Linked DNA regions of Homo sapiens. The protein of the gene in region 1 purifies or fractionates together with the protein of each later gene. This does not show direct contact. Each region holds a gene or a part of one and is shown in the gene's direction. Other genes may lie near its edges.

Evidence for each region.
Region 2: the proteins of C2orf66 (region 1) and DRC8 purify together in Homo sapiens (affinity purification with mass spectrometry; one large-scale study listed by BioGRID and IntAct). This does not show direct contact.

The regions. Positions count from the first base shown.
Region 1 is NC_000002.12:196,806,433-196,810,762, reverse strand, and holds the start of C2orf66 (uncharacterized protein C2orf66 precursor), read left to right. Parts: upstream 1-1,407; 5' UTR 1,408-1,414; coding exon of another isoform or gene 1,415-1,426; coding exon 1,427-1,549; intron 1,550-3,140; coding exon 3,141-3,320; 3' UTR 3,321-3,339; intron 3,340-4,330.
Region 2 is NC_000001.11:245,080,983-245,084,803, forward strand, and holds part of DRC8 (dynein regulatory complex protein 8), read left to right. Parts: intron 1-1,100; coding exon 1,101-1,180; exon of another isoform or gene 1,181-1,183; intron 1,184-2,459; coding exon 2,460-2,502; intron 2,503-2,639; coding exon 2,640-2,706; intron 2,707-2,957; coding exon of another isoform or gene 2,958-2,986; exon of another isoform or gene 2,987-3,821. UniProt on the Homo sapiens protein: Component of the nexin-dynein regulatory complex (N-DRC), a key regulator of ciliary/flagellar motility which maintains the alignment and integrity of the distal axoneme and regulates microtubule sliding in motile axonemes.

The DNA.
Region 1 (4,330 bases):
GAAATGAACAACTGAAGGGCAGAGGTCATAGTAACTTGCCCAGGGTCAAGATGGCAAGACTGAGACTATAGCCAGGTTTGCTAATTTCCAGTCGAGATCACCAGCCTTCTGAATAAATATCTTGTCCTAAATTTTGTTCTAAATCATTGGAACCAAAGCAACGTCACAACTCAAGTCCAATTTCTCGGCCTACCATTTTCTACAGATGGCATTTATTCAGCAAGGGAATGTTGTAGGTATAGTAATTTATCTTTTTTCCATGAAACATGTGTTATCTTCTTGCTCTATTTTGAAGAGATATTATGATAAATGATGCCACTATTTAAAACTTGTAAAGCTTCTTGAGGTTCTCAGAAAAAAGTACAAGGTATAGGTCAAAAAGAGTAATTTTGTCTCTCACAAAAGAATTTTCTGTTCAAAAAATGCTGTTAACTTGAAAAAGTCATATCTCCAAAAGAACGTTCTAATAGGTGGGATAATCATCATCATATTTCCAGCTATAATCCATCATATTTCCAGGTGTATCCCTTCCCTTAAAAGTAAAAAAGGAGAAAATCACTTTGCTGTGTGGAAGTGCTTTGTGTGTTTTATAAAATCCACATAAAATGTTCGTGGTTCAAGGAGTGGCTGCCGCATTTCTAAGGCAAATAAGCTTATCCCTGAAGAAGCTTGAAGATCTGACTCTCAAGAATCTTTGTGTTCTGGATGAAAAAGGAATCATTATTTTTTAACTCCCCTGCTCAAGTCAGTGACTTCCACTGGCACCCAATCCATTGGTTATAAGTACCCATGAATTGCCTTGCCAATTATAGGCAGGATAACCTAGGAGGACCAACCAAAACCAAACTCCTGGTAAGCTTTATTAGCCTTTTCTACAATGTGTCTCAGTTTCTCTTTCACACCTTGGAGTGGAAGACAATCTCTACTCACACTGTTGTGGTATGTGTCTGTCTGTCTCAGATGTGTGTATAAGGTGTATTTCTCAGCTCGGTATCTGAAGTAATTTCTTTTTCTTTTCTTTTTTTTAAAGACTGCTGTCTTAAGGCTTAAAAGTAATTTAAGGTTTTGTTTTTTGTTATTTTAAGAGTTGCAGTTTCTTTGGAGACAACAAAGTACTTTTTTTCCAAAGATGAAAAAGGCATATTCAGACTTTCTATGTTATGTTCCATAATTGTTTTGCTTATCACTGTATAACATTCTCATTATCATGGGCTACTTTAAGCTAATCAGTTGCATTTTGGGGTCCTCATTTAGAAGTCAATCTGGAAAAAAGATGGCTGTAAAACTTAGATAAACCAGTATGCTATTTCTCCTTCCTTGTCTGCCTTTACAGATGTTTCCTCTTTCTCTCTCTCTTCCCTGACTATCTCTCTCAATGATCATTGACAGCTCCCGCATCCCCTCTTTCACTCAGCTTCACTCCACCATGACCAGAGCACCTCTCCTGCTACTATGTGTTGCCCTGGTGCTGCTTGGGCATGTGAATGGAGCCACAGTAAGAAATGAGGACAAATGGAAGCCACTCAACAACCCCAGAAACAGAGATCTGGTAAGAACACACTTGGGGCCTGGGTTTCAGGATAGAACTAATGCCTCTTTGGATTTACGCACACAGCATTCTGTTTTCCAGAACGTAGTGGAAAGGGGGCTACCAAGGGTTGAGAAAATTCTCCAACAGGATTGGACCAGAGTTTTACTACCCTAGTGGTTGGCAACCTATTGTTTCTCTGGCCAGTTTACATTTGTTTCTGTAAAGAGAAACAAATTTATATTTAGAAACAATCTTATACACACATAGTACAATTCATTTGTAACTGATCTTATATACACATTGACTTTGTAGCCTTGATTTCTAATACATATAAAAAATAAAGAGTGTAACAGGGAATTGCTCGTGCATAGCTTAGATTGAACTGATGATAAAACAAGTTATCATATAACTAGAGATTGCCAAGCTCAGCTGCAAAAATTGAAAGTTGACCCTGCATGGGTATCAATTTACTGGACATATTTTCAACATATAGTTATCTATAAAATAGAATTCAAAAGATCAGTAAACATTCTCTTTAAAAAAAATGCCAAATACAATAAACATGTTGACATGACTATTTTGAAATATGGTTTTTCTAAAGTGAATGATGGGAAATATAACAACATAGGATTAAAATAAACTGAGATAAGAGACCAGCAGGATTTGTTTTCTGGTCACAGCTGCTGACGAAAACAGGATCTGGTCCAGACAGGATAAAGTGAAAACACTGGGTGAAACCAGCAGATGGCAACAAAAGTGGTCCCGACCTGCTCTCATTGCTCTTAGGATATGATCCTCCCCTCAGTGCCATGACAGTTTACAAATGTCATGGCAATTACCTGGAAGCTACCACTCCTTTCCATGGCAATGACCCAAAAGTTACCACCTCTTTCCTAGAAAGCTCTAAATAACTCCCTTCTGTTTGCATTAACCCATCCCTTAATTTGCATATATTCAAAAGTGGATAAAAACACAGTTGATAAGAGCCCATATGTTGTCAGCCCTAGGTGCACTACCTATGAATTAGCCTTGTTCTGGCAGGAGCAGTACCTTTCAATAAAAGATTGTTACCACAACCAGCCTGCCCTTAAATTCTTTTCTGGGCAAAGCCAAGAACCCTCCTGTGCTAAGCTCCAGTTTTGGGATTTGCCTGTCCTGCATCAAAGCAAGTAGCACTTCGCACATCTTCTGTGTTCATTTCCTAATGGAAATCTGAAAAGAAACTATTGCAGAAGGCAACAACAGAGATCTCATATTAAGGAAGAGGAGATACTGAGCTGCTTATTATGGAGTTCATTTTCACCTTTGACCTTAGTACTCAGAGATAGTTCACAATGAATCTTTCCACTGTGGTGCCGCTCCATAGTCTTCCTTCAATTTTCAGTAAGAATGGTGAATTATTTTGGTTAGGGTTGAAATGTCAGAAAGAAGGTACAGAGGAGGGGAGGAGAAGTAGCTGAAGCATGTACTTGTATTTCTAGATTTTGTATTTCCTGCCTCTTAGATTAGCCTTAAAGTCAATTCAGGGGAAAAATAGAGGGAAGAAAAACACCTTTATTTTTGGTGTTTCATTTATATCTGGCATTGACCATTTTCTTTCTCTCTTTAGTTTTTCAGAAGGCTTCAGGCATATTTTAAGGGCAGAGGTCTTGATCTTGGAACATTTCCAAATCCTTTCCCCACGAATGAAAATCCTAGACCTCTCTCTTTCCAGTCAGAACTTACTGCTTCTGCATCTGCAGATTATGAAGAGCAGAAAAACTCCTTTCACAATTATCTCAAAGGCTGAAAGTTTCTTCTGAGCTCAGGTAAAAGTTGGCCCTTTATTCTGGATCTGTCCAAACATACAAGTCAGCCATAAAGTAGATATTTTGAAAGTATTTATTTGAAAACATAATTTTATTTCCTCATAGAAATAAATGCTCAGTTCTGCTTATACTCATTACTATTAAGTATTTGGATTTGGTTCAGGTATTTTACAGTCTTGTTTTAAAAAGAAATGACAGTTTTTATTTTTTAAGCATAGTTATCCAGGCAGAGACATATTAAAATAATAGAATTATCTCTTAATAGGATTATTAAATTAATAACATGGCCACACTCTTACCTGTATCTTTTTCCAGACCAACTGATATAGCTAAGTTATGTGGAAAATCTACATAAAGAAATATGTCAAATTGAGCTGTTGGATTAGATGGGAATTAAAAGTTGAAAGTATGGTTCTTTGGGGGATAAAGTATTATGCATATATTTGAGCTTGAACTTCCTCACCTATAGGAAGAAAAGGTTGACTATTAGTAAGGATGGCATTTTTCTCATAGAAAAAAATTAAAAATTTATTAAGATTTGAATTTCATTACTTTTTTTGTTGTTGTTGAGGTAGAGTCTCACTGTGTCGCCCAGGCTGGAGTGCAATGGTGTGATCTTGGCTCACTGCACCCTCCACCTCCTGGGTTCAAAGGATTCTTCTGCCTCAGCCTCCTGAGTAGCTGGGATTACAGGTGCCTGCCACCACACTCAGATAATTTTTGTATTTTTTTTTTTTAGTAGAGACAGGGTTTCACCATATTGGCCAGGCTGGTCTCGAACTCCTGACCTCGTGATCCACCTGCCTCAGCCTCCCAAAGTGCTGGGATTACAGGCATGAGCCACCACACCCAGCGAATTTCATTACTCTTATTATTTAGCATTCCTATCAAACCAACACCTACCATTTAAAAAGAACAAGCATGATTGGCCGGGCGCAGTGGCTCACACCTGTAATCCCAGCACTTTGGGAGGCTGAGGCGGGAGGATCAA
Region 2 (3,821 bases), on another chromosome or scaffold:
GTGACTGTCTCTCCCCTGCTGTCTCTGTCTCATTACCTTCTACTCATACTCTCTAAATCAGCTGGAGTGTTATTTCCTCATGGATGACTTCCCTGGTCTCCTGGTCTAAGAAGTGTTCTTTATTTTTTTATTTTTATTTTATTTTATTATTTTATTTATTTTTTATTTTTTTATTTATCTATATATATATATTTTTTGAGACGGAGTCTCGCTCTGTCACGCAGGCTGGAATGCAGTGGCCTGATCTCGGCTCACTGCAAGCTCTGCCTCCTGGGTTCACGTGATTCTCCTGCCTCAGCCTCCTGAGTAGCTGGGACTACAGGCGCCCACCACCATGCCTGGCTAATTTTTTGTAGTTTTAGTAGAGACAGGGTTTCACCGTGTTAGCCAGGATGGTCTCCATCTGCTGACCTCGTGATCCACCCACCTCGGCCTCCCAAAGTTCTGGGATTACAGGCGTGAGCCATCGCACCCGGCAATTTTTTTATTTTTTATTTTTTTATTGAGATGGAGTCTCGCTCTGTTGCCCATACTGGAGTACAGTGGTGCGATCTCGGCTCACTGCAACCTCCATCTCCCGGGTTCAAGTGGTTCTCCTGCTTCAGCCTCCCGTGTAGCTTGGATTACAGGTGTGCGCCACTACGCCCATATAATTTTTGTATTTTTAGTAGAGACGGGGTTTCACCATGTTGGCCAAGCTGATCTTGAACTCCTGACCTCAAGTAATCTGCCTGCCTTGGCCTCCTCAAGTGCTGGGATTACAGGCGTGAGCCACCACGCCCGGCCGAGTGTTCTTTATTGGCTGTTCTTACAGACCCATGCTCCTTCCCCTCACTGTACTTACATCAGTTCACAGTGTCTTTGGTTGCTGTTTCTTGATTAATGTCTGTCTCCCTGATCAGAGTATCAGCTGTGCTCCAGTTGAATGATGAAGGTAAATCTTAAAAAGATAAAGTAAAGGACCATCTCTGTGAGCAGGGGTCACGCCCAAGTGTGCTCACCATCCAGAGTCTCTAGCACTTGGCACAGTGCTTGGAACAACTAGTTGCTGAATACATTTGTTGAATGACTAAATGGCTATTTACTTATTGAATGTTTAGGTAGAGGAAGAAGAACCCACTGGATACATTCGATTCGAAAAATTTCTTCCGGTGATGACAGAAATACTACTAGAAAGAAAGTAAGTAAGTAAATGCAATTGTTAAGGCAAAGTAATGGTCAGAATTATGAATCCATTCATTTCAGGACGCTTGGCTTTTTCACTTTGTGTGTTATACTCAAGCAGTGTGTCCTAAGGTGGCCTCCCTCTAACCTTTCAAGCTACTTCTGAACTGGCAGTTGGTACCTGCTTAGAAATATCAACCACACTAGTGTTATCCTAAGCAAAGCATAATTAGAGGGTAAATAAGCTATAAAGATCGTAAATCAACATTCTTAGTATCTTCTGTTTTGAATTATCAATGATAAATAAGAATCCTAATATTTTTCTAGCAAAAATATAGCATTAGCTTACCATAGTTGGTTCATCATAGAAGTCTTGTGCCCAGATAAATTGATGTCCAAAAAGCTAATAGATAACCTCAAACATGTCAGTGATTTTGCACTAAATATTTCCTGTGGGGCTGAGGTATTTTCAACTTTCATATCCAGAAATCCAAAAAGATTTCAATGAGGCAAGTATTATCATCCCAGTATGTTAGCAGCTTTTATTTTATTTTATTTTATTTTATTTTATTTTTGAGATGGACTTTCGCTTTTGTCACCCAGGCTGGAATGCAGTGGCACCATCTTGGCTCACTGCAACCTCCACCTCCTGGGTTCAAGCAATTCTCCTGCCTCAGCCTCCCGAGTAGCTGGGATTACAGGCACGTGCATGCCACCATGCCTGGCTAATTTTTGTATTTTTAGTAGAGACAGAGTTTCACTATGTTGGCCAGGCTGGTCTCGAACTCCTGACCTCAGATGATCTGCCCACCTCAGCCTCCCAAAGTGCTGGGATTACAGGCATGAGCCACCATACCCAGCCCTATTTTGTTTTATGTGGTCATTTATTACGGGGATCCCCAACCACCAGGCCAGGTACTGGTGCCAGTCCCTGGCCTGTTAGGACCCCTGGGCCACACAGCAGGAGGTGAGCAGCAAGAGAGTGAGCATTACTGCCCGAACTCCGCCTCCTGTCTGAGAAGCATTGGCATTAGATTATCATAGGAATGCGAACCCTATTGTGAACTGTGCGTGTTAGGGATCTAAGTTGCATGCTCCTTATGAGAATCTAATGCCTGATGATCTGAGGTGGAGCAGTTTCATCCCCAAACCATCCCTCCCCTCCCCTGGTCTGTGGAAGAATTGTCTTCCATGAAACTGGTCCCTGGTGCCAAAAGGGTTGGAGACTGCTGATTTATTATGTAAAGACTGCGGTAAATACCACGGCATTTACTCATTTTATTGCATAATTATAGATACAGACCAATTCCAGAAGATGTCCTTCTTCGAGCTTTTGAGGTATGTAAACTCCAGCTTATATGCATATACATATATATAAATACATTTATTTACATACACACATATATGAAAAATTTATCATGTAGAACTTATTCACCAAATGAAAAATATAATATCTATCTTTTCTTTTCCCCTAGGTTTTAGATTCAGCTAAACGTGGGTTTCTTACTAAGGACGAGCTGATCAAGTATATGACTGAAGAAGGTAAGTGTGATTTATTACTTATCACAATGACTTATGTGAGGAATTAATAATTTGTTAACAGTTATGCGAAAGTTATAGGGGATACTTTAAAATCAGTCATTCTGGTGAAAGTTATTTACTGTTCCTGCTATTTTGGCTTGGGGATGGTTTCTGTTCTGTGGGGGTTAAGAGGACAAAGAGTAGGGAAAGGGGAGATGGGTTGTTGTCTCGTAGAATTTTGTGAAGCACAGTGATTACTTCTATAATTTCAGGCATTGCATTCAGAGCATTTCCAGAATAAAAGATATGCCATCTGGAAAACATGAACTATCGATCACTGTAAATGAAGGCCTCTTCCTAGATTGAAGATTTGAATAAAGAATATAAAAATTCCGCCCCCCCCCCGGCGCCCCGGCTTTTTTTTTTTTGAGACGGATCCGGTCTTGCTCTGTCACCCAGGCTGGAGTGCAGTGGCGCGATCTTAGCTCACTGCAACCTCCGCCTCCTGGGTTCAAGTGATTCTCCTGCCTCAGCCTCCCGAGTAGCTGGGATTACAGGCACAGGCCACTGCGCCCAGCTAATTTTTTGTATTTTTAGTAGAGATGGGTTTCACCATGTTGGCCAGGCTGGTCTCGAACTTCTGACCTCAGGTGATCCACCCATCTTGGCTTCCCACAGTGCTGGTAAAAATTCCCTTTTAAAGAGCTTTTCTGTCAGTGAAGTTACAGATAATGTAGCCTCAATTGAATACTGAGGTCATTTTTAACACTAAAAATGTCCTTTTTTAATGTTAATTGAACCATATATATTTGTTTTGAACATGGCCCATCATACATATATGCATACACACACATAAAACCTGCACACTTATATATATATGCCAACATATTTCCTTTAGGAATTCTCTCTGCTAGGCTGATGTGTAAATTTGTTTACACTGAAGGTCAGTAGCCTGATGGACAGTCTCCTGAAACCATCCTCATATTGGTCCCCTTGCCTTCTCCCATACAAAGCTAGAGCTCTCTGGTTCACAGACTGGGTCCTGAATGACTCAGAGTTGCTAATCACTTGAGGCAGAATGAAAAGCGCAAGTGATTTTGAGTAGGGAAGACTAAGACTGCATCTACACGCACAAC